Linked DNA regions of Homo sapiens. The protein of the gene in region 1 interacts with the protein of each later gene in a biochemical or structural test. Each region holds a gene or a part of one and is shown on either strand. Other genes may lie near its edges.

Region 1 (7,595 bases):
TGCTCTGTGCTGCCACCAAAACCAACCTGCAGTCCCCCAACCCCACCCAATCCTCTCCCCATTTCCTGTTTGTGAACCAATCTGCAGCCCAACCCAGTCTGATCAAAGGCAATGGGAGGTAAGACAAGTCACTATCCTAAACCCAAAGCCACAGTCCCCAGCACAGGCCAGAGATGCCCAGCTGTCCCTACTAATGGCTGGCAGCTGCCCCGCTGCTTGGGCTTTAACAACTGGATGGGAACAGCTGTGCTCTGGAAGACACCACCCATGCCCACAGCCAAGGGGATGGTCTGTCCAGGCCAGAGCCCACCAACTCTCTCTCCATTCCCTTGCAGAAAGGGCCTAGACCAGGGCTGGCCAGAGGGTAAAGTGTCATCGAAGTCAGAGGTTGCTGATCGGCCAAGAGCCAAATCAATCTGCAGGCAACTGTGTTTTGTTTGGCCTAGAGTGAGTTAAAGTTTTGAATTAGTTGGATCATATTTTTAAATTGTAATATTTCACAGAAAAAAATGGGTATAGGCAAGAAAGAAAAACGGGACATACGCTGGGCTTGTATTCCTGCAAGACATGGGCTGTAGTCTAGTATCTGCTCTCCCAGTGGCCACTGTCCCCACTATCCCTGGCCCTGAGCCCACACTCGGTTGGCTCCCATGAGAGCAGATCCTTCTCTGAGACAGGGAGCAGAATGCCAAGGCCTGAGAAAGTCAGTGAGCCCCCCGGCCATGGGGATCCTGAAGCCACCCCATGGTCTGTCTGCTTTCCCAGGCCTCCCGGGTGAATTTATGGTAGAACTAGGATTCTTAAAGACAGGTGCTGAATGCTTGGAAGTACACATTCCCTTCTCTACTCACGTCTGCTCCGCCATGTGGGGGTCCATAGGGCTGGGGGAATCCATGCAGAGACCTGAGGGGACAGAGCACCTTGGTTTGAAAGTAGTGGCACTTTCTGTATTCTTTCCCCCACCATGTCCCAATATGAAAAAAAAAAAAAAAAAAAAAACAGTTTCTAGTTTGGACTTTGACACATTAGAAAATGAAACAAAAACCCAACCATGGACCCTGAGAGCTGACACATCGTCCCCCAGACGGTACAGGGCTCCACTCCCTGTTTACTATGGAAATTCCTTCATATGCGTCTTTAAACCACAATGCTCACTAAGCATTTTTCTTGAACTGGTTTAAAATAATTTGTTCTAGAAGAGACAACAGATTTTTAAAGAAGAGGTTATAGGCTAAGAATGTTTTAAAGACCAACTCTCAGCCCTGGGTGCTTCCCAGGTAGGGTTGTGGTTTAGGAACTCTGGAGCGTGGTTTTACATAGGTAAGATCTCATCTCCGTAGAGGGCCCCACCCTCTCATCCACTCAGCCAGTCCGCGTTGGGTGTGGTGAGCCCCACAAGAGGTGTGTCTTCCTCCCATTTCTGTGGAGGGTGGGGGAGAGGCTCCTGGGCCCACCAGGTTGTGGGGAGGATGTTAGTTTGATCGGCAGGGAAATTGGGAGGCCCAGGCAGCCCCCACAAACTCTCCTGACACAGGCAGATCTCCCCAGGCTCCCCTGGGCCTCACCTGCATCAGAAGATTCGGAGGATTCAGACGACAGGGAGGATTCGGATGCCCGTCGAGACAGGGATAGGTGCGTCAGGCGGCTGCGGCTGCGGAAGAGCAGGGTCCCTACCTGACTCTTTGGGGTTTCGCTGGGAAGGGAACAGGGACCCGGGAAAGGAGAAAGGTAAACGTGGGGCTCAAGGCCTGGCTAGCCCACGTTCCCACTCCCTTGCTGAGAAAAGAACTGAGCGAAACACTACACCGGGAAAGCAATGGCCCTGAGGGCCCCCTCTTCTCAGGTCAAGGAAGGTTCATTCTACAGAGGCCCTAAAGCGTCTTCTCTTCGTTGACTGGTTTAGGAAAGGTCCTCTCAGGAGCAGGGCAAGGTGAGCCCAGGGTGTGAGCAAGGCTGCCTGGCTGGAGGCCAGCCTAAGGGTTGGTGGTCTAGCAGAGCCGCCCCAGAGAGCCTTCCCCTAAACTGTCAGACCCCCACCTTTCCAGGACCCTTCCTGAAGGATGGACCAAGACCAGGTTCTCCTACTGGAACAACCCAGCTCTCCCCTTGCAGACTTAGGGAGCAGGATCAGTGTTTAATTAATTGTCTTAATTCTGGGGGCAGAACTGGGGTGGAGGGAGCAGGGGCATGGATGTGTGAGTGCTCCACGGCTCTGCCACCCTTAAGTTCCCTCTCCAGGCTTGAGATTCCCATCCTGGGGCAAAATGGTGGCTATCCGGGCAGAGATTACGGAGGCAGCGTGGTGGAGGCACAATGAGGGAGGAGGGAGTGAGGGGAAAGAAGATTTGGAGAGGCTTGTGCAGACTGAGAGCAGGTCACCTGGAGGTGTGGGGGGCACAGCCCAGGTCTCACTTCCCATGTCCTGGGCCCCTAGGAGGGAACAAGGGCGTACCTCTCCACTGCTCAGGATGCCTCCCCGGACTCCACCTCCTGGATTCGACTACCATGCCCAGTTCTCCAGGAGGCCCAGGACTCCAGACCTAGCCTCTCACCCCCATATGCAGCCTCCTTGGGGTGTCCTACCTGCCGAGCCCGGCGAGGTCGTGCATGGTCTGGGTGAGGGTGGTGACCGGCGAGGAAGCGGCCGCCCGCACCGGGGACCCCAGGAGGCCATGAGATCCCAGCAGGAGGCCCGGGAGGTGGCCCGGACGCTGGGCGCCACCGCACACGCCTGCTGGACTGAGAGCCGAGCCTGGCGCGGGCTCCGGCTGGGGCACCTCCATCGCGGCGGGGCCGGCAGAAGGCTGGCTGGAGGGCCGGGCGCAGGGCAGCCAACAAACGCCGGCACAGCTGGCTGGGCCGAGGGAGGCAGCGGGCGAGGGGTGGGGGGGGGGGGAAGGAGGGAGGGAGGAAGAGCCACAGGGCCAGGCGCGAGGGAGGAGAGGGATGCGGGGAGGGCGGGGGGCGAGGGACGCCGGGCTCAGGCACCAGCCAGGGAAGCCTCTAGTTGCAGCTGCCACTTCCACCTCCTTATATATTCGAAAAATAACAGCAGCCGCGCCGCCGGACGCCACCAATGGGGTAGCGGGTTAGATGAGGGCGGGACTGAGGGCGGGGCCCGCAGGGCAAGAGGCGCGGAGGCTGGATTTCCAGGCTTTGGGTGGGCCGGAGGAATTAAGATTTATCCCACACCCTCGCACATCCCCCTGGCGCGAGGATCCCGGCCTCCCAAAATCCGCCTCTCGCGACATGGTTTGGAGCTCCACACTCCCAAAGGCAGCAGCAACGCCCTAGGGTGGCCTCCGCAGGACCCCCCGCGGCATGTCGTCACCTGGGATCACCGCTAGGGATGGGGAGAGGCTCCAACTGGCTCCCGGAAGTTTGCTAAACCCAGCTGGGCTGTACGGTCTGCGTTAGACACCCCATTTTACAGACCTGGACGCTGAGGCGTGAAGTTCATTAACTCAATCAAGGTCACGCGGTTGGGCAGGCGGTGGGCCAGGATTCGCTCGCTCCAGGCGCCTCTGACCGCGCAGCCTCCCCGCCTCCGCGACTGGCTGCGCTGAGCAGCAGCAAAACGTCATTCGCAGGAGAAGCGCCCAGCGTAGGAGGTGGGAGGGCAGTGGGGCCCCCAAGCGGAACTGATGGGCTCTTTCGCGGGACCCCAGGTTAGATGTTACCCCAACCGGCCCAATTTTCGCGGCAGCCCCAGGAGAGGCTCTAAACGGTGGAACTAGGAATGGATTTCCGCGGCTGGGGGTCGAGGAGGGTGTCAGCAACCAGAGAGGCGAATTAAGTATCACGCCCATTGATGATTTGGCTAACTTGGTGCCAATGGCACCATATTATTTAATTGGTGTTTCTTTGATGACCAGACCAGGGAGGCTGAATTTGTCATTCGTTTTAAGCGGAGCAGCTTCCAATTATCTTTCTTTTTGTTTTGTTTTGTTTTTTTTGGGATGGAGTCTCCCTCTGTCAACCCGGCTGGAGTGCAGTGGCCATCTCTGCTCACTACAACCTCCGCCACCCGGGTTCCAGCGATTCTTCTGCCTCAGCCTCCCGAGTAGCTGAGACTACAGGAGCGCGCCACCACGCCCAGCTAATGTTTGTATTTTTAGTAGAGACGGGGGTTTCACCATATTGGCCAGGCTGGTCTCGAACTCCTGACCTCGTGATCCACCCACCTAGGCCTCCCAAAGTGCTGGGATTACACGCACGAGCCACTGTGCCCGGCCCATCTTCCAATTATCTAAATGCCTTCCAGCCCCGCTCGTTTTCCAGGCCTCCTGGAACAAGAGGCCTGAAGGCTGCACCCAAAAGCCGGTGGGTAGTGAGCAGCTTTCGCATCCTGTCTCCCCAGGTTAGAAGTGGCCTCTGGCTGGGCGGGTGGTGGTGCGGGGGGCGGGCTGCAGCTCAGCAAGGCAGGAGTACCCCTTCTCGTGCAGTCCCAGCCACCCAGACCCAAGGTGCATTGGATGGGGGTGGCAAAAGGGAGGGCCTGGTGATGGGGGGCTGGGTGGGCCAATGCATCTGAAGGGTAGGGGAAGACCCCAGCCCCACCTGAGAGGGGTGGCCAAGGTGGGAACGTGACCTTTCCTTTTCTCCAAATTTTGCCCAGCTCCTGTGCTGTGCAGAGGGCTCTGCAAGACTGAATTTCCGGTTCATCCTCCCTGGGTCAGGGGTTATGCCCTGGACCTCCAGCCACTACTTCCAGTGAGGATGTGACTGCCCTTAGTGCCAGGAGGGAAGGGGGAAGTGTCCTTGTAAAGCCACCCAGCCCAAAAACCAGAAAAAAAAAACTGCCCCGAGATTTGCATTTTCAAAATAAACACAACAGGTATCCCCCCCACCCCCCACCCAGCCAATATACATCTGCACAGGGTGTATGTGGCAGGGCAGGCATTATACTATTGAATCCCTTGAAATCCCACAGTCAAAAAACACATGAAAAAATGCTCATCATCACTGGCCATCAGAGAAATGCAAATCAAAACCACAATGAGATACCATCTCACACCAGTTAGAATGGCAATCATTAAAAAGTCAGGAAACAACAGGTGCTGGAGAGGATGTGGAGAAATAGGAACACTTTTACACCGCTGGTGGGACTGTAAACTAGTTCAACCCTTGTGGAAGTCAGTGTGGCGATTCCTCAGGGATCTAGAACTAGAAATACCATTTGACCCAGCCATCCCATTACTGGGTATATACCCAAAGGATTATAAATCATGCTGCTATAAAGACACATGCACATGTATGTTTATTGCGGCACTATTCACAATAGCAAAGACTTGGAACCAACCCAAATGTCCAACAATGATAGACTGGATTAAGAAAATGTGGCACATATACACCATGGAATACTATGCAGCCATAAAAAATGATGAGTTCATGTCCTTTGTAGGGACATGGATGAAATTGGAAATAATCATTCTCAGTAAACTATCGCAAGAACAAAAAACCAAACACCGCATATTCTACTCATAGGTGGGAATTGAACAATGAGAACACATGGACACAGGAAGGGGAACATCACACTCTGGGGACTGTTGTGGGGTGGGGGGAGGGGGGAGGGATAGCATTAGGAGATATACCTAATGCTAAATGACGAGTTAATGGGTGTAGCACACCAGCATGGCACATGTATACATATGTAACTAACCTGCACATTGTGCACATGTACCCTAAAACTTAAAGTATAATAATAATAAAATAAAAAAATAAAATAAAATAAAATAAAATTCTCTAAAACCAAAAAAAAAAAAACAGAAATCCCACAGTCAGGTCACCTCTGGGCCAGTGAGGGGGGAGGTGGGCAAGACCACAGAGGGGTTCTGGGTTTTTTTGTTTGTTTGTTTGAGATGGAGTCTCGCCCTGTCGCCCAGGCTGGAGTGCAGTGGCATGATCTCGGCTCACTGCAACCTCTGCCTCCTGGGTTCAAGCGATTTTCCTGCCTCAGCCTCTCGAGTACCTGGGATTACAGGTGCCCGCCACCATTCCTGGCCAATTTTGTATTTTCAGTAGAGACAGGGTTTTGCCATATTGGCCAGGCTGGTCTCGAACTCCTGACCTCAGGTGATCCACCCACCTCGGCCTCCCAAAGTGCTAGGATTACAGGCGTGAGCCACTGCGCCTGGCCCACATACATAATTTAAAATATTCTAGTAGCCACATTTAAAACAGTAAAAAAGAAACATGAAATTACTGTAATATTTTATTCAATGTAATGTATTCAAAATATTATTCGACATGTTATCAATATAAATTAATGAGATATTTTACATTTTTGGATATCAAGTCTTCAAACTAGTATGCATTTTACACCCCCAGCACATCTCAATTTGTACTTGCAACATTTAAAGGGCTCAATAGTGCTGGCACTGTGGCTCACACCTATAATCCCAGCAACTCCAGAGCCTGCTGCAGGACAATTGCCTGAGGCTAGTAATTCAAGACCAGCCTGGGCAATATGGTGAAACCTTGTCTCTACAAAACATTTTTTAAAAACTTAGCCCGGTGTGGTGGCCCCTGCCTATAATCCAAGTGACTCGCTGGGCACGGTGGCTCACACCTGTAATCCCAGCACTTTGGGAGGCCGAGGCAGGTGGATCACAAGGTCAGGAGTTTGAGACCAGCCTGGCCGACATGGTGAAAACCTGTCTCTACTAAAAATACATACATTAGTTTGGCCTGGTGGCACCGACCTGAAATCCCAGCTACTCGGGAGGCTGAGGCAGGAGAATCGCTTGAACCTGGGAGGCGGAGGTTGCAGTGAGCCTAGATCATGCCATTGCACTCCAGCCTGGGCGAAAAGAGCAAGACTCCGTCTCAAAAACAGACAAACAAACAAAAAATCCAAGTGACTCTGGAGGCTGAGGTAGGAGGATAGCTTGAGCCCAGGAGTTTGAGTCTGCAGTGAGCCATAATTCCACCACTGCACTCCAGCCTGGGCAACAGAGTGAGACTTTGATTCTAAACATAAAATAAATAAATTAATAGTTCAATGGCCACTTAGGGTTAGTGGCTGCAGGTCTATATCTTTACAAGCGTAAATCCGTCTGTATTTTAAAGAATATACAAACAGCATATGAACATTGTTCTAGGCTGGCATGCTGGCTCACACCTGTAATCCCAGTACTTTGGGAGGCCAAGGTAGGTGGATCACCTGAAGTCAGGAGTTCAAGATCAGCCTGGGCAACATGGTGAAACCCTGTCTCTACTAAAAATACAAAAATTAGCCAGGCATGGTGGCATGTGCCTGTAATCCCAGCTACTTGGGAGTCTGAGGCAGGAGAATCACCTGAATCCAGGAGGCGGAGGTTGCAGTGAGCCAAGATCGTGCCACTGCACTCCAGCCTGGGTGACAAAGTGAGATTCTGTCTCAAAAATAAATAAATAAATAAAAATAAAAACCACTGTTCTATACCTTTCTTCTTCTTACTTGGAGATGGATCCATATTAGTACCATAACAATATATATTTACTCAAGCCCCTAATGCTGAACATTTAGGATATTAGCTTTTACAACGATGCAGTAAGTATGCCCTTATGTGTCTGTGTGCTATCTACAAGATGAATTCCTAGGGAGGAACTGA
Region 2 (7,025 bases), about 41 Mb from region 1:
TTTGTAGACAGACAGTGTGTAACTCCTAATAGGTTAGGGATAAGGGGTGCTGCCTGATGGCTGACAAGCTTTATACTGGTTTTCAAAAGAAAGGAGTCATGGGCAGTAATTTAGAAAGGCAGCCAGCAGGGAAGGTGGTAGGTCCCCAAGTGTGAATTCCTTTTCCCTTCAAAGCAGCCCTCGCTGAGTTCATTTTTACCTGATTTCACCTGGAAGAAAAAGAAAGTTCCCAATGGCTCAGGATGTGCGGGAAAGACAATATGATTATGATTTGTTTTGGAGTACGTACCCCTCCCATTCAATCCCAAGTGGCGGCCAGAGGGAATCAATCATCTGACTAAGGGTTTATGTAAAATACAGGAGAGGAGAATGCCCAAAACACTTTGAATTTGGCTCTGGAATGCATGCCGAACTTGATGGATGTGCCTAACTTTCAGACCAAAGCAGGACTTTACAGTGTGAAGGCATGACTGGGGAGAGGCTGAAAGGCAGCTCAGCTTTTTCATCTCCCTCCCCTACTGGCGATGACATCACTACTCTGACTAATATACACAATAGCCTATCTGTAGCTGTATCTATTAAAATCCTGTCTATCTGGCCTCAATTTTAAAAGATGGAGGGAGGCTGAAAAAATGTCACTGTTTTTCACAGGTCTTTTTGATAGGAGAGGAAAGTATCTCAGAAGTGATGTACAACCTCTGATCAGGCAATAGGTGACACAAATTATATCATATGCTTAAAAATTAGTTGTAAATACCTGGCAGCTTTCCAGTATATTCAGACACCTCTCTCTCATAAGCTGTTTTGAGAGTCTGCATTTATACATTAAATTAATACTATTTAGAAACCACTGTTCAAAACAGAAGCACTGGCCTCTTACCAGAACATCATTGCAGATGTCCTGCAGTTCTGCCTCTATCTTCTCACGGTACTCTTTGCCCATCTGCTGCTTCTTCTCATTCCTCTCTGTTTTCTGCTCAATGCTGGAGATGACACGCCAGGAAGAGCGGCGGGCGCCTACCACATTCTTGTAGGCAACAGAGAGCAGATTTCTCTCTTCGTTGGAGAGTTCATGCCCCTGTTCTGTGACTGCCTTCATGGCTGCAGCCATATCATCATATCGCTCAGCCTGCTCAGCGAGTTTGGCTTTCTGTACCAGCTCACTTTTATCCATTGTCATTCCCTAGAACAAGAGCAAGAGAAAAAGAAAGAGCAAATGTCAGGTTTCGGGGCCTAGGAAACGTGTGTGAATCTTCTTCCAACCCATCTGGAAAGCAGCATACTAAATGTGAAACATCTCATTCCAAATGCCATCAACAATATTGATGATATATCAAACACCTCTAGGGTTAAGTACTTTGCTAAGGCCTTTATATTATTTTGGTCCAGTAATCTTCCCAACAGTCCCAGAGTAGGTATGTTCATAACAACAACTTTCCCCTTCTTATGGGTGAAGAAATGGAGGGTCAGGGAAGGCAAGTGATATGCCCAGAGCAACATGCAAATAGATGGTGGAGAGCCAGAACTCCAGCTCACATCTATCTGGCTCTAGAGCTTTTGTTTTCTTCCATTAGCCTAATTCACCTGCCTGGCACATACAGACTGCTTAATAACTATTTCTTTAGAAGTTTATGCTTACTAGCCGGGTGCAGTGGCTCACACCTGTAATCCCAGCACTCTGGGAGGCCGAGGAGGGCAATTCACGAGGTCAGGAGTTCGAGACCAGCCTGACCAACACAGTGAAACCCCATCTCTACTAAAAATACAAAAATTAGCCAGGCGTGGTGGCAGGCATTTGTAATCCCAGCTACTGGGGAGGCTGAGGCAGGAGGATCGCTTGAAACCAAAAGGCAGAGGTTGCAGTGGGCCGAGATCACGCCACTGGACTCCAGCGTGGGCAACAGAGTGAGACTCCATCTCAAAAAAAAAGTTTATGCTTACTATATATATGTCCTTGACTTCTCTCAGTAATTGTCTGGTTTGTTTTAATGACCTTAATCCAACTGTATCCTGTAATACAGGAAGTCCTCTCTTCACTGTCCTGTAAGCAACTCTGGTTTTGACTAAACCTGTTTTTTCCATAGTACAGGAAAGAGTAAGTATGATGTTTGTTTCAACCAATCCTGAAGCAAAAGATATGATTTTAAATGATCTATTTGGCTGCACCCATCAAGCAGTAGATAACTGAAGGATGGGAAAGATTATATCACATCTTCTGTAATCTGCTAACTTTGTTACTAGGACACACTGCACAGGAAGAACATAAACTAAGGGCAGTCAGACTTGGGCTCTATCTAGCACTAGCTCTGCTACTTACTTACAAGTGGCATGACCTTGGTTAAATCACTTAACCTGAGAGCTTCGGTCTCTACTGGGCAATAAGAACACTACCCAGGGCTGGATGTGGTGACTCACGCCTAGGATCCCAAGAGTTCAAGATTATCCTGGCAAATCAGTCTCTAACATAGTAAGACTTCATCTCTACAAAAGAAGAAAAAATTGGCTGGGTGTGGTGGTGTGCACCTGTAGTCCCAGCTACTCAGGAGGCTGAGGTGGGAGGATCACTTGAGCCCAGAGTTCCAGGATGCAGTGAGCCGTGACTGTGCCATTACATTCCAGCCTGGGCAACCAACTGAGACCCCTGTCTCTAAAAAAAAAAAGAAAGAACACTACCAACTCTTTTAGTGGGCCTGTTATGAGGAACAAAAGACCTGATACATGTGAAGGCACCTTAAAAAGTATAAAGCATTATATAAAAATATCAGGCACTAATTTTGTATATGGTATAGGTTGCAAGAGAAAGGGGTGTATAACAAGATGTACAGCAACATAACTTGAAACCATAACTGAATTCATCTGAACCATAACTGAGTTCATTTAAAGTTTTTCTGAAATAGACAAAAATCCTAGTGACTTCAGTTTATCAATTTATCAAATCCATATGCCAATCAGTGAATATCTCTTATCAACTCACCACAGTCAGTTCCCCACTGCAATAATCACCATTTACAGAGTGCGGTAATTTTAATAAGTAATTTTTGGATAAAATAATTGAAAAGTTATTTACTAAACAAGAAGAGTTAATTTTATGTACTGTTGGTTTAAATATTGATATATCAATCTGTGCCACACAGTATAAAAATACACTAATATCCTGAGCTATAAAAACATGAAATGCTACTTTAAACAGTAGTAGTAATGTCAGGTTTTTTTGTGTGCTTTGTCTGTTTGTTTGAGACAGAGTCTCACTCTGTCACCCAGGCTGAAGTACAGTGGTGGGATCTCGGTTCACTGCAACCTCCACCTCCAGGGTTCAAGTGATTCTCCTGCCTTAGCCTCCCAGGTAGCTGGGATTACAGGCACGTGCCACCATGCACAGCTAACTTTTGTATTTTTAGTAGAGATGGGATTTTGCCATTTTTGGCCAGGCTGGTCTTGAACTCCTAAACTCAGGTGATCTGCCCGCCTTGGCCTCCCAAAGTGCTGGGACTTACAGGCGTGACCCACTGCACCTAGCCAATGCCAGTATTTTCAAAACAAATTCTTTCATTACTACATACATGGTATCACAATTTAAGGCTCTGAAAATGATTATTTGTTTGGAGACGGAGTCTCATTCTGTCACCCAGGCTGGAGTTCAGTGACGCAACCTCGGCTCACTGCAACCTCTGCCTCCTGGGTTCAAGCGATTCTCCTCAGCCACCCGAGTAGCTGGGACTGCTGGCATGCACCACCACACTCGGCTGATTTTGTATTTTTAGTAGAGGTGGGGTTTCACTACATTGCTCAGGCTGGTCTTGAACGCCTGACCTCAGGTGATCTGCCTGCCTCGGCCTCCCAAAGTGCTGGAATTACAGGTGTGAGCCACCGCACTTGGCCTCTTTGCTATTTTTAAATTAACCATTTTCTGCTGGGCGCAGTGGCTCATGCCTGTAATCCCAGCACTTTGGGAGGCCGAGGCAGGTGAATCACGAGGTCAGGAGATCGAGACCATCCTGGCTAACACGGTGAAACCCCGTCTCTACTAAAAAAACAAAAAATTAGCTGGGCACAGTGCACGTGCCTATAGTCCCAGCTACTGGGGAGGCTGAGCAAGAGAATCGCTTGAACCCGGAAGACGGAGGTTGCAGTGAGCAGAGATCGCGCCACTGCACTCTGGCCTGGGCAACAGAGCAAGATTCCATCTCAAAAAAAAAAGGAAAAAAAAAACAAGAAAGTATGACCTCCACTCACAAAATGATTTTGCCTCAAAAGTCATTTCTGTATTTTCAAGAGAGAAATTCTACACACAGGGCCTTATCACCTAAAAATGTTTTAGGGAGCACAATAAGATACACTCAAAATCTAGGTGATTCAGAAAGAATTGATTCTCCAGTTCATAACTATAATTTTTCTTCCTACTGCTTATTATCTAAATCACATGCAGAGCTGTGTCTTATATAAGGCTCACTAATTGTAAGCTTACACTCAGTGAGGCAAGTCTCACTTTGATCCATCTGACATCTTCACTCACAACACTAGAATAAAACTAAGGCAGAGAGAGTAATCCTCAAGAAACATTCCATTTGTTCCCTTCTATTTCCCAGAACCCCCACAGCAGTCAGAAGAGGCCACATGGTAGTTCTGTCCAATGAAAGATAAGTAGAAATGACGCTACTTCCAGGCTAACACTGTGAATATCCTACGTGTGCCTCCCCAGGCTCTTTTCCCTCACAGCAGCCACTGAGAAGGCCATGTATTCTAGGTGGTACAGTCATGCAACTGTAGAGTTTTTGTCAGCCTGAGTCCCCGGGTGACTGTATAGTGCAAGACTCCTGCAGACCTGCATTGGACACGCAGGGTGAAAACAAAAGAAACTTTTGCTGGGTTAAAACATTGAGATGCTGGAGCTGTTGGTTACCACAAGACAACCTGTTCTACTCTAATACAAGTACATCAAAAATACTCTACCATCTTAAAAGTATATATAGTTGGCCCTCCATATCTGCAGGTTCCAGATACACAGATTCAACCAACCGTGGTGGAAAATAAAGAAGGAAAAAAACACAAAATAAACAAGTATCTTCAGATTTTGGTATCCCCAGGTGTCCTGGAACCTACACCCCCTGGATACCAAAGGATGACCACTGTCTTCATATATCTAACTTTCTTGACCATAAGGTCTTTGAGATCAGGACAATAAATATCTTCATCATTAAATAACCCTACTTCATGGTTTCTAAAAGTGCCAGGTACACCAGAAAGAAGCCAACTTTCAATGACCCAACAACCTTCAGAAAATTTCCAGTCTGTAGACTAACTCAAAGTTAGAAGTCACTTAGAGGCCCACTTCAAAGTTCATAGAACAGTACCTATGCAACTCTACCTGTGGATTACTCCAAATCATAAAGTACTGGCCAAAAGCCAATTCAGAGCTAAGCCATCCCATGTGGTATCATAATGGAGTAATAAAGGATTGCCGTTGCTAAATAATGCCATCAACCTCTTCAGCTCTACTAGGCCCCAAAATTAAGCTATCCCCCTTTTACTTCTCTCCTTCTCAAGGATTAAAAGTTAAATCATACTACTCCAAAGAATCTGGACTATTCAGTGGGACCTCCCAAATATGCCTTCCCTATTTCCCAAAATAAAATGCACCCTTTCTGTTTGGGGTCAGCTATTTTAAGCTTCTCCGAGATTACTGCAAGATTTCTTAGAGATTGAGAACCATCATGGCAAGATAAGGACTGAATGCACACCTTTTTAAAATCTGTATCCATTTATCTGTTTCAAATATTTTTAATTATACACATACAGAAACAACTTACAACAAACAAAATCCATAGCTAAAGGTCCTGATGGCTACTGCTTACATAACTTTTGACTTATATAACATGGATTTTGAAGCAACTAGACCAATTTCAACAGGAAATGGGTTACACAACACCCAGCAGTTTGGAGGAAGGCAGCAAAGGAGAAATGAAATTGTTCCTATTTCTACATCTACAATAAATCTCCCATCCAAAATCTTGCCCTAGTGGCAATGCTTTCAGTCACTCATTATCTACAGCCCCCTCCATGCCTTTGCTGTAAGACCCATTTTCCTATAACTCTGCTCAAGTCACTTCCCGCTCAAAATTCTTTAAAGTTCCCTGATGCCAAAAGCAGAGTCAGATTTCCTCCCCTATCAGTGAAAGCTTGCCAACCTATCTTCCAGACCCCCACATCATGCCTTCCACATCATATGTGCTTCTGCCAAAATGGTTTTCTTACATACAAAGTATGCTTTTCTATCTTTGCTCACCAAGCCACTCCCTCTACCTGGAATGGCTTTTCCCAAATTTACTCTGCATACAAGATTCTTCACAGTGTGGCTCAGATACCATCCCTTCCATGAAGCCTTTCTTAAGCTGTTTAAGCCATAGCCATAGCTACATGTGGCTATTCACTTAAAATGTGGCTAGTGCCACATATTGAAATCATATTTTGTTCATAATGGGTTAAGTAAAAACAGATAGAATCAATTTCACTTTAAAAAAATTTTTAAATGCAGCTACCAGAAAAATTTAAATTACATGTGGCTTATATTCTATTCCTATGGGACGGCATTGCTCTAATGAATATATTCTCACAAAGCATTTCGCTGATACCTGTCAATGTCTTACCACGTTTCTTCAGTACTAAAATTACTTACATAGTGTCTCCTATTTCCCTTCCTACACCATAAGCTCCTTTGGACATATCTCCCACAGCATCCTGTACATAATTGGTAGGAACAAATATCTGCTGAATGAACAAACTGATCCTGAAATGTAAGCATAAAACTGCAGAGTTGGTAGAGTTCTCCCTTTTCTCAAATAATTCAAAGCACCTATTAGCCTCACAAGCATATTAAATCTTCATTACATTTGTACCTAGTTTCTTGAATTTCTGTGCCCTCTGAAATTCAAAGAGTAATTCACTCTTCCAGTCAGGCATGGCAGATCAATCTATAATCCCAGTGCTTTTGGAGGCCAAAGCTGGAGCATCGCTTGAGACCAGGAGTT
Region 3 (7,025 bases), on another chromosome or scaffold:
CCTCCATTTCCATTCTCCTGCTCTCTTTTTTCTTCTGTATCAGGATTCCAAAGATTTCTGAGCCTTAGGTTGACCTCTATACTTTTACTGTTTTTATTGCCTTTTGGAATTTCTTAGTCCTATGGTTCCTGTTTGTTTTTAGGATGAGGTTCCAGTTTATCCCCACATTTGCCCCACTGACAAATGCCCTTTAAAATATTTCTGAATTAGTGTTGCTGTTTAAAGTATTTAATCCTGTGCCTTCAGGTGCCCAGTGAGAATAAATTTGTCCTCTGTGATATCTCCTTGCCTTGAGTAACTTTTTCTACTCCAGTGGAAGCAGAATGTTTCATTTTCTATCAACAGTTTTCCCTCAGTACTGGGACCTGACCTTGCTTCTTCTAATGTTTGCCTACTGTGTTCATGCAGATTTCGTTAGGTTAAATGTTCAACCTACTTATTAAGTTGGGTCCAGTGTGATCTCTTCCTAGGAAATGGCTTAATATTGTTTATTTTATCAGAATGTCGTTTTGCATGTTATCTTTTTGTGTGCTATTTCTGCTTTGATGTTGAAGACTGAACCTTGTTTTTTAAAGCTGATTTAATTTTTTTCTTGAGTGTCGATATTTTTCCTTCTAAAGCTTCTGCTCTAGTTTTCTATTCATTGACCAAATTTTTTTTGTTTGTTTTTGAGCTGGAGTCTCACTCCTGTCGTGCAGGCCAGAGTGCAGTGGCGTGATCGCGGGTCACTGCAACCTCCACCTCCTGGGTTCAAGCGATTCTCCTTCCTCAGCCTCCCTAGCAGCTGGGATTACAGGTGTGCATCACCACGCCCGGCTAATTTTTGTATTTTTAGTAGAGACGGGGTTTCTGCATGTTGGTCAGGCTGGTCTCGAACTCCTGACCTCAGGTGATCCACCTGCCTTGGCCTACCAAAGTGCTAGGATTACAGGCGGGAGCCATTGTGCCCAGCCGTTTTTTACTTGCTGATAATAATTTTCTTTTTCTCTCCAAGTAAAATGATTCATGGAATCAGTGTTTCAGGCATAGAAAAATGATATTTTTAAAATGTCCTTTGTGGCTTTTGGGGTTTTGATAAGTTCATTCAGAATTTTTTCCACCTCAATTTTAAGAAGACTACTCATCATTGTATGAAGGGCCTTCTCTTATTAAGCTCTGTCTTCCTTTATAAGCTCACCACACTTCTGAGGTTGAACTCACACTCTAGGTCTTCCAAATTCATGGCCATTATTAAGGCTTAGTAACATGCTAGTCACTCAGTTCTGGATAAGGGCAGGGTGAAGAACAGAGAATTTGAAGGTAGTTTACGTGGCACCTGCCACTCATCAGTTTGAGGCTTAAACAGGCTTGCTTGGCCAGGGCGATGGCTCACGCCTGTAATCCCAGCACTTTGGGAGGCCAAGGAGGGTGGATCACCTGAGGTCAGGAGTCTGAGACCAGCCTGGCCAACATGGCGAAACCCCATCCCTACTAAAAATACAAAAATTAGCCGGGTATGGTGTTGTTGTTCGCCTGTAGTCCCAGCTACTTGGGAGGCTGAGGCAGGAAAATAGCTTGAACCTGGGAGGCGCAGGTTGCAGTGAGCTGAGATCGCACTACTGCACTGCAGCCTGGGCACCAGAGCAAGACTCCATCTCAAACAAACAAACAAACTAGCCAGGAGTGGTGGCATGTGACTCCTGGCCTCAAGTGATCCACCCACCTCAGCCTGCCAAAGTGCTGGGATTACAGGCGTGAGCCACTGCACCTGGCCTCGACTAGATTTTAATTTTTAATTTTTATTTATTTTTTTGAGACACAGCTTCGCTTGTTACCCAGGCTGGAGTGCAGTGGCATGATCTCGGCTCACCGCAACCTCTGCTTCCCGGGTTCAAGTGATTCTCCTGCCTCAGCCTCCCTAGTAGCTGGGATTACAGGCATGGGCCACCACGCCTGGCTAATTTTTTATATTTTTAGTAGAGACGGGGTTTCTCCATGTTGGTCAGGCTGGTCTTGAACTCCCGACCTCAGGTGATCCGCCTGCCTCAGCCTCCCAAAGTGCCGGGATTACAAGTGTGAGCCACTGCGCCTGGCTGTTTTTTATTTTTAGTAGAGACAAGGTCTTGCTATATTGTCCTGGCTTGTCTTGAACTCCAGGCCTCAAGCAATCCTCCTGCCTTGACCTCCCAAATTGCTGGGATTACAGACATGAGCCACCATGCCCAGCTATCTTTACGCTTCTTCCTTTTGCCACTCCTAGCTGTAGGTTTGGTATGGGGAAGACCTTAGCTATCTATGTTTTCAACATTTCAAATATTTGTCTTTTGCTTTTAAGTCTTTACAACTGTTACTGATTTTGTATGGTGTGAGATAGAGATCCAATGTGTTTTTTTTTTTCCTTCACCTCATGGCTAATCAATTGTCCCAGCTCCAGAGCTGCATTTCCATCACCTGTTACCTCTAAAAGCAGCCTCAGTTCAGTACCTGTCAACTTTTACTTCCTCTAGGATCTTTGCACCTAAATTCCCTCTTTCTGGAATATTCTCCGTCTATTTCTTTGTGGGCTATGACTGTTAAGGCCTACAGACCAAAGACCACATCTGTAGTAAAAATCATTAGATGTATTTAGTTTGCTGCGCAAGAGAAACCATACTCTTGAGAATTTTGGGTAGTCTCAGAGTGAGTTGAAAGGGGCAGAATGAGGGAAGAATGAGGTGGGCCTGAGGATGTCATTGAAGACAATGAAGTCAGTCAAATAAAGGATCTTTATTTTAACAGCCTTGTATGGAAACATTGTTTATATGGTTATGTTCAGATTCTATTGAAACCATTGTTCAAGTTTTGATAGGAATATCACAGTCTGATTACTGGCAGGGCTGATTTTCTCAATTCTCATCCTTTGAATTAGAGCTTGGCTTAAATGTTACCTTCTCAGAAACCACTGTTGCTTATTTTTATTTCAGTATTTAGTATAGATAATAATAATAGTAATTATTATTTTTTGAGACAGAATCTTGCTTTGTCTCCCAGGCTGGAGTGCAGTGGCACGATCTTGGCTCACTGCAACCTCTGCCTCCTGGGTTCAAGCAATTCTCCTGCCTCAGCCTCCCGAGTAGCTGGGATTGCAGGCGCACACCACAAGGCCTGGCTAATTTATTTATATATTTATTTATTTATTTATTTTTGTGAGATGGAATTTCGCTCTTGTTGCCCAGGCTGGAGTGCAGTGGCACGATCTCGGCTCACTGCAACCTCCGTCTCCTGGGTTCAAGCAGTTCTCCTGCCTCAGCCTCCCGAGTAGCTGGGATTAGAGGCATGTGGCACCACACCTGGCTAATTTTGTATTTTTAGTAGAGACGGGGTTTCACCATGTTGGTCAGGCTGGTCTCGAACTCCCGACCTCAGGTGATCTGCCCGTCTTGGCCTCCCAAAGTGCTGGGATTACAGGCATGAGCCACCGCGCCCAGCCTAATTTTTATATTTTTTAGTAGAGACCGGGTTTTACTATGTTGGCCAGGCTGGTCCCGAACTCCTGACCTCGTGATCCGCCCACCCTGGCCTCCCAAAGTGCTGGGATTATAGGCGTGAGCCTCTGCACCCGGCCTATAAATTATAAGTATTAATTTGTTGTCTACTTATTTGCCTTTTGTCTTCTCCACTAGAATATACACTCCATGAGGGCAGAATCATATTTCTTCTCCATTATAGCCCTAGTGCCAAGGGCAGGTTTGGCATATCATAGGTGCTCAGTAAATATCTGTATGAATAAATGAATAAGAGCAAATTCAAGAGTTTTCTAGAACTGCATTAGCAGTTTTTCCAGACACACTGCTGATCTCTAAAAGTCAACCACGAGGTTATTTTCCACAAGTAAGATGGAGATGGTATGAGTGTGACTTTGTATATTAATGTGCATAACAGGGCCCTACTTAGCTCTATGGTTTTTAAAAAATAAACTACTTAATTTTAAAACTCAGGGAGACAAAATCAATAAGATCTACCTAATTTTTTTTACAACTAATTTTTATTTATTATTTGATGTATAATTAACAGTATATGTAACCCACATAAGTTGTGAAGCATAATAATAAAATACATATCATATACATAATAAAATTGTGTATGACTGGGGTCTTAGTTTGGGTTTTCCTGATGACTACTGATAATTTTTTCATGTCTTCTTTTTTTTTTTTTTTTTTTTTTATTTTGAGACAGAATCTCGCTCCGTTGCCCAGGCTGGAGTGCAGTGGCGTGATCTCGGCTCACTGCAACCTCTGCCTCCTGCCTCAGCCTCCCAAGTAGGTGGAACTACAGGCGCGTGCCACCACCCCTGGCTAATTTTTTATAGCTTTAGCAGAGACAGGGTTTTATGATGTTAGCCACAATGGTCTCCATTTCCTGACCTTGTGATCCACCCGCCTCGGCCTCCCAAAGTGTGGGGGTTACAGGCGTGAGCCACCGCACCCGGCCTTTTTTTTTGAGACGGAGTTTCACTCTTGTTGCCCGGGCTGGAGTGCAATGGCACAATCTCAGCTTACTGCAACCTCCGCCTCCCAGGTTCAAGTGATTCTCCTGTCTCACCCTCCCAAGTAGCTGGGATTACAGGCTCCTGCCACCATGCCTGGCTAATTTGTGTATTTTTAGTAGAGACGGGTTTCGTCATGTTGGTCAGGCTGGTCTCGAACCCTGACCTCAGGTGATCTACCCTCCTCAGCCTCCCAAAGTGCTGGGATTACAGGTGTGAGCCACCTTGCCCAGCTTCGTGTCTTTTTTTTTTAAATTATTTTTTCTTCAGGTAGCCTCCCGAGCCAGAGTAGGCTCAGAGACACCCTTTTCCATGTTTTTGTTGGCCATTTGTGTTTCTTTGAGAAATTTTTTTTTTTTTTTTTGAGACAAAGTCTGGCTGTTTCGCCCAGGCTAGAGTGCAATGGCACGATGTCGGCTCACTGCAACCTCCACCTCCCGGGTTCAAGCGATTCTCCTGCATCAGCCTCCCAAGTAGCTGGGATTACAGGTGAATGCCACCCCGCTTGGCTAATGTTTTGTATCTTTAGTAGAGATGGGGTTTCACCATGTTGGCCAGGCTGGTCTCGAACTCATGATCTCGTGATCTGCCTGCCTTGGCCTCCCAAAGTGCTGGGATTACAGGCGTAAGCCACCATGCCCGGCTGAGAAAAGTTTTTTGTATCATTTGCTTATTTTGCTGTTGAGTTTTTCTTATTGTTTTGTCAGAGTTTATGTGTTTCCTGTGTACATCCACTATTATATTTGTTGCAAGTATCTTCTCACATTTATGGTTTTCTTTTTTTGATGGTGTCTTTGGTTGTATAGAAGTGCTTAGTTTTATTTTTATTTTTTTTATAGATGTGGTCTTGCTATGTTGCCCAGGCTGGCCTCGAACTCCTGGGCTCAAGCTGTCCTCCCAAGTGGCTGACAACACACGCACCACTGTGCCCAGCTGAAGTTCTTAATTTTAATGTTGTTTAATATATTAATTTTTTTCATTATTATTATTAGTACTTTATTTAAGTGATCCTCTCCTATCCTGAAATAATGACAATATTCTTTAAAAAGTTTTAAAGGTTTATGTTTCATACTTTTTAAGTCTATCTGGAATTCATTTTTATGTATGGTGTGAGATAAGAATCCTTTTTTTCATATGGCCAATAATCAGTTTTTTCAGTATCATGTAAATGCATAAGACTTATTTAGATTTGCAGTTACAAGAATGGAGGAGATGATCCGGTATTATTTCCTTTATTGATTATGTACTCTCTGTCTTCTAGGTTCTTTTTCTAATTCCAAATAAACTTGCAAGAGGACTATGAAAGATTATGATGAACTTCTCAAATATTATGAATTACATGAAACTATTGGGACAGGTAATTGTTATTTTTTTTTGGAGGCAGTGGATAGATCAACTATTTGAGAGTATAGATTATTTGGGTAGGTGTGAGCTTTTTCGTCTAACCCACACAGTTTTAAAATTCTTCTACCTACTTCAGTAAGAAAAAGTGGAGCAAGCAGAGAGGAGAATAGTAGGAGAAGCCCTGTAGGTTATTGCAAGGACTTTGACTTTTATTCTAAATAATTTATTCTAAATATTTCTTTTATTTCTTTTTTTTTTTGAGACGGAGTCTCACTCTGTCGCCCAGGCTGGATGGAGTGCAGTGGCGCGATCTTGGCTCACTGCAAGCTCTGCCTCCCGGGTTCACGCCATTCTCCTGCCTCAGCCTCCCAAGTAGCTGGGACTACAGGCGCTCGCCATGCCTGGCTAATTTTTTGTATTTTTAGTAGAGACGGGGTTTCACCGTGTTAATCAGGATGGTCTCGATCTCCTGACCTCGTGATCCACCCGCCTCGGCCTCCCAAAGTGCTGGGATTACAGGCATGAGCCACCGCGCCCAGGCTTCTTTTATTTCTTGACTTTTATTCTAAATTAAAGTCATTGGAGAGTTTTGAGTTAAGGGGTAATTTGACCTTTGTTTTTACAGAGTTGCTGTGGCTGCTTGGTAGATAAAAGGTTGGATGAAGGAGGGCAAGAGCAGAGGCAGGGAGATGTTAGCAGACTATTGCGATAATTCAGGTGTTGATGCTAGAGATGATGGTGGTGTGGATGAGGGTGATGTAAAAGCAGTGAAAGGGGTGGGACATTTTACACACACATATGTACACACCTATGTGTGTATGTTTTTATTAAGGTATAACATATAGTAAAATATGCAAAGTGCAATAATCTCAGTGGAGTTTTACACATATATATGTATACACATACCCATATATTCCCTGTGCGGATCAAGACATAGACCGTTTCCAGGGAGTATCTGCCTGCTTTCCCCCAAGGTAGCCATTGATATATTTTGAGGACAGAGCTAATGGGATTTATTGATGGGTTGGAGTGCTAGAGAAAGAGAAGGGCTAAGGATGGTTCCAGGGTTTTTGGCCTGAGCACCAGGGAAAATGGAGTTGCCCTTTGTTGAAAGGAAGAAGACCATGGGAGAGACTACTAGGAAGTTCTTTTTGGAAATGTTAATTTGGGGATTTCT

Evidence for each region.
Region 2: the proteins of CDC25B (region 1) and YWHAB form a complex in vitro, tested with the Homo sapiens proteins (2 studies listed by BioGRID).
Region 3: the proteins of CDC25B (region 1) and MELK form a complex in vitro, tested with the Homo sapiens proteins (one study listed by BioGRID).

The regions. Positions count from the first base shown.
Region 1 is NC_000020.11:3,791,720-3,799,314, reverse strand, and holds the start of CDC25B (M-phase inducer phosphatase 2), read right to left. Parts: upstream 3,006-7,595; 5' UTR 2,784-3,005; coding exon 2,584-2,783; intron 1,694-2,583; coding exon 1,566-1,693; intron 904-1,565; coding exon 852-903; intron 1-851. UniProt on the Homo sapiens protein: Tyrosine protein phosphatase which functions as a dosage-dependent inducer of mitotic progression. Directly dephosphorylates CDK1 and stimulates its kinase activity.
Region 2 is NC_000020.11:44,895,689-44,902,713, reverse strand, and holds part of YWHAB (14-3-3 protein beta/alpha), read right to left. Parts: intron 1,184-7,025; 5' UTR 1,181-1,183; coding exon 881-1,180; intron 1-880. UniProt on the Homo sapiens protein: Adapter protein implicated in the regulation of a large spectrum of both general and specialized signaling pathways. Binds to a large number of partners, usually by recognition of a phosphoserine or phosphothreonine motif.
Region 3 is NC_000009.12:36,575,879-36,582,903, forward strand, and holds part of MELK (maternal embryonic leucine zipper kinase), read left to right. Parts: intron 1-4,194; exon of another isoform or gene 4,195-4,993; intron 4,994-5,765; 5' UTR 5,766-5,803; coding exon 5,804-5,861; intron 5,862-7,025. UniProt on the Homo sapiens protein: Serine/threonine-protein kinase involved in various processes such as cell cycle regulation, self-renewal of stem cells, apoptosis and splicing regulation. Has a broad substrate specificity; phosphorylates BCL2L14, CDC25B, MAP3K5/ASK1 and ZNF622.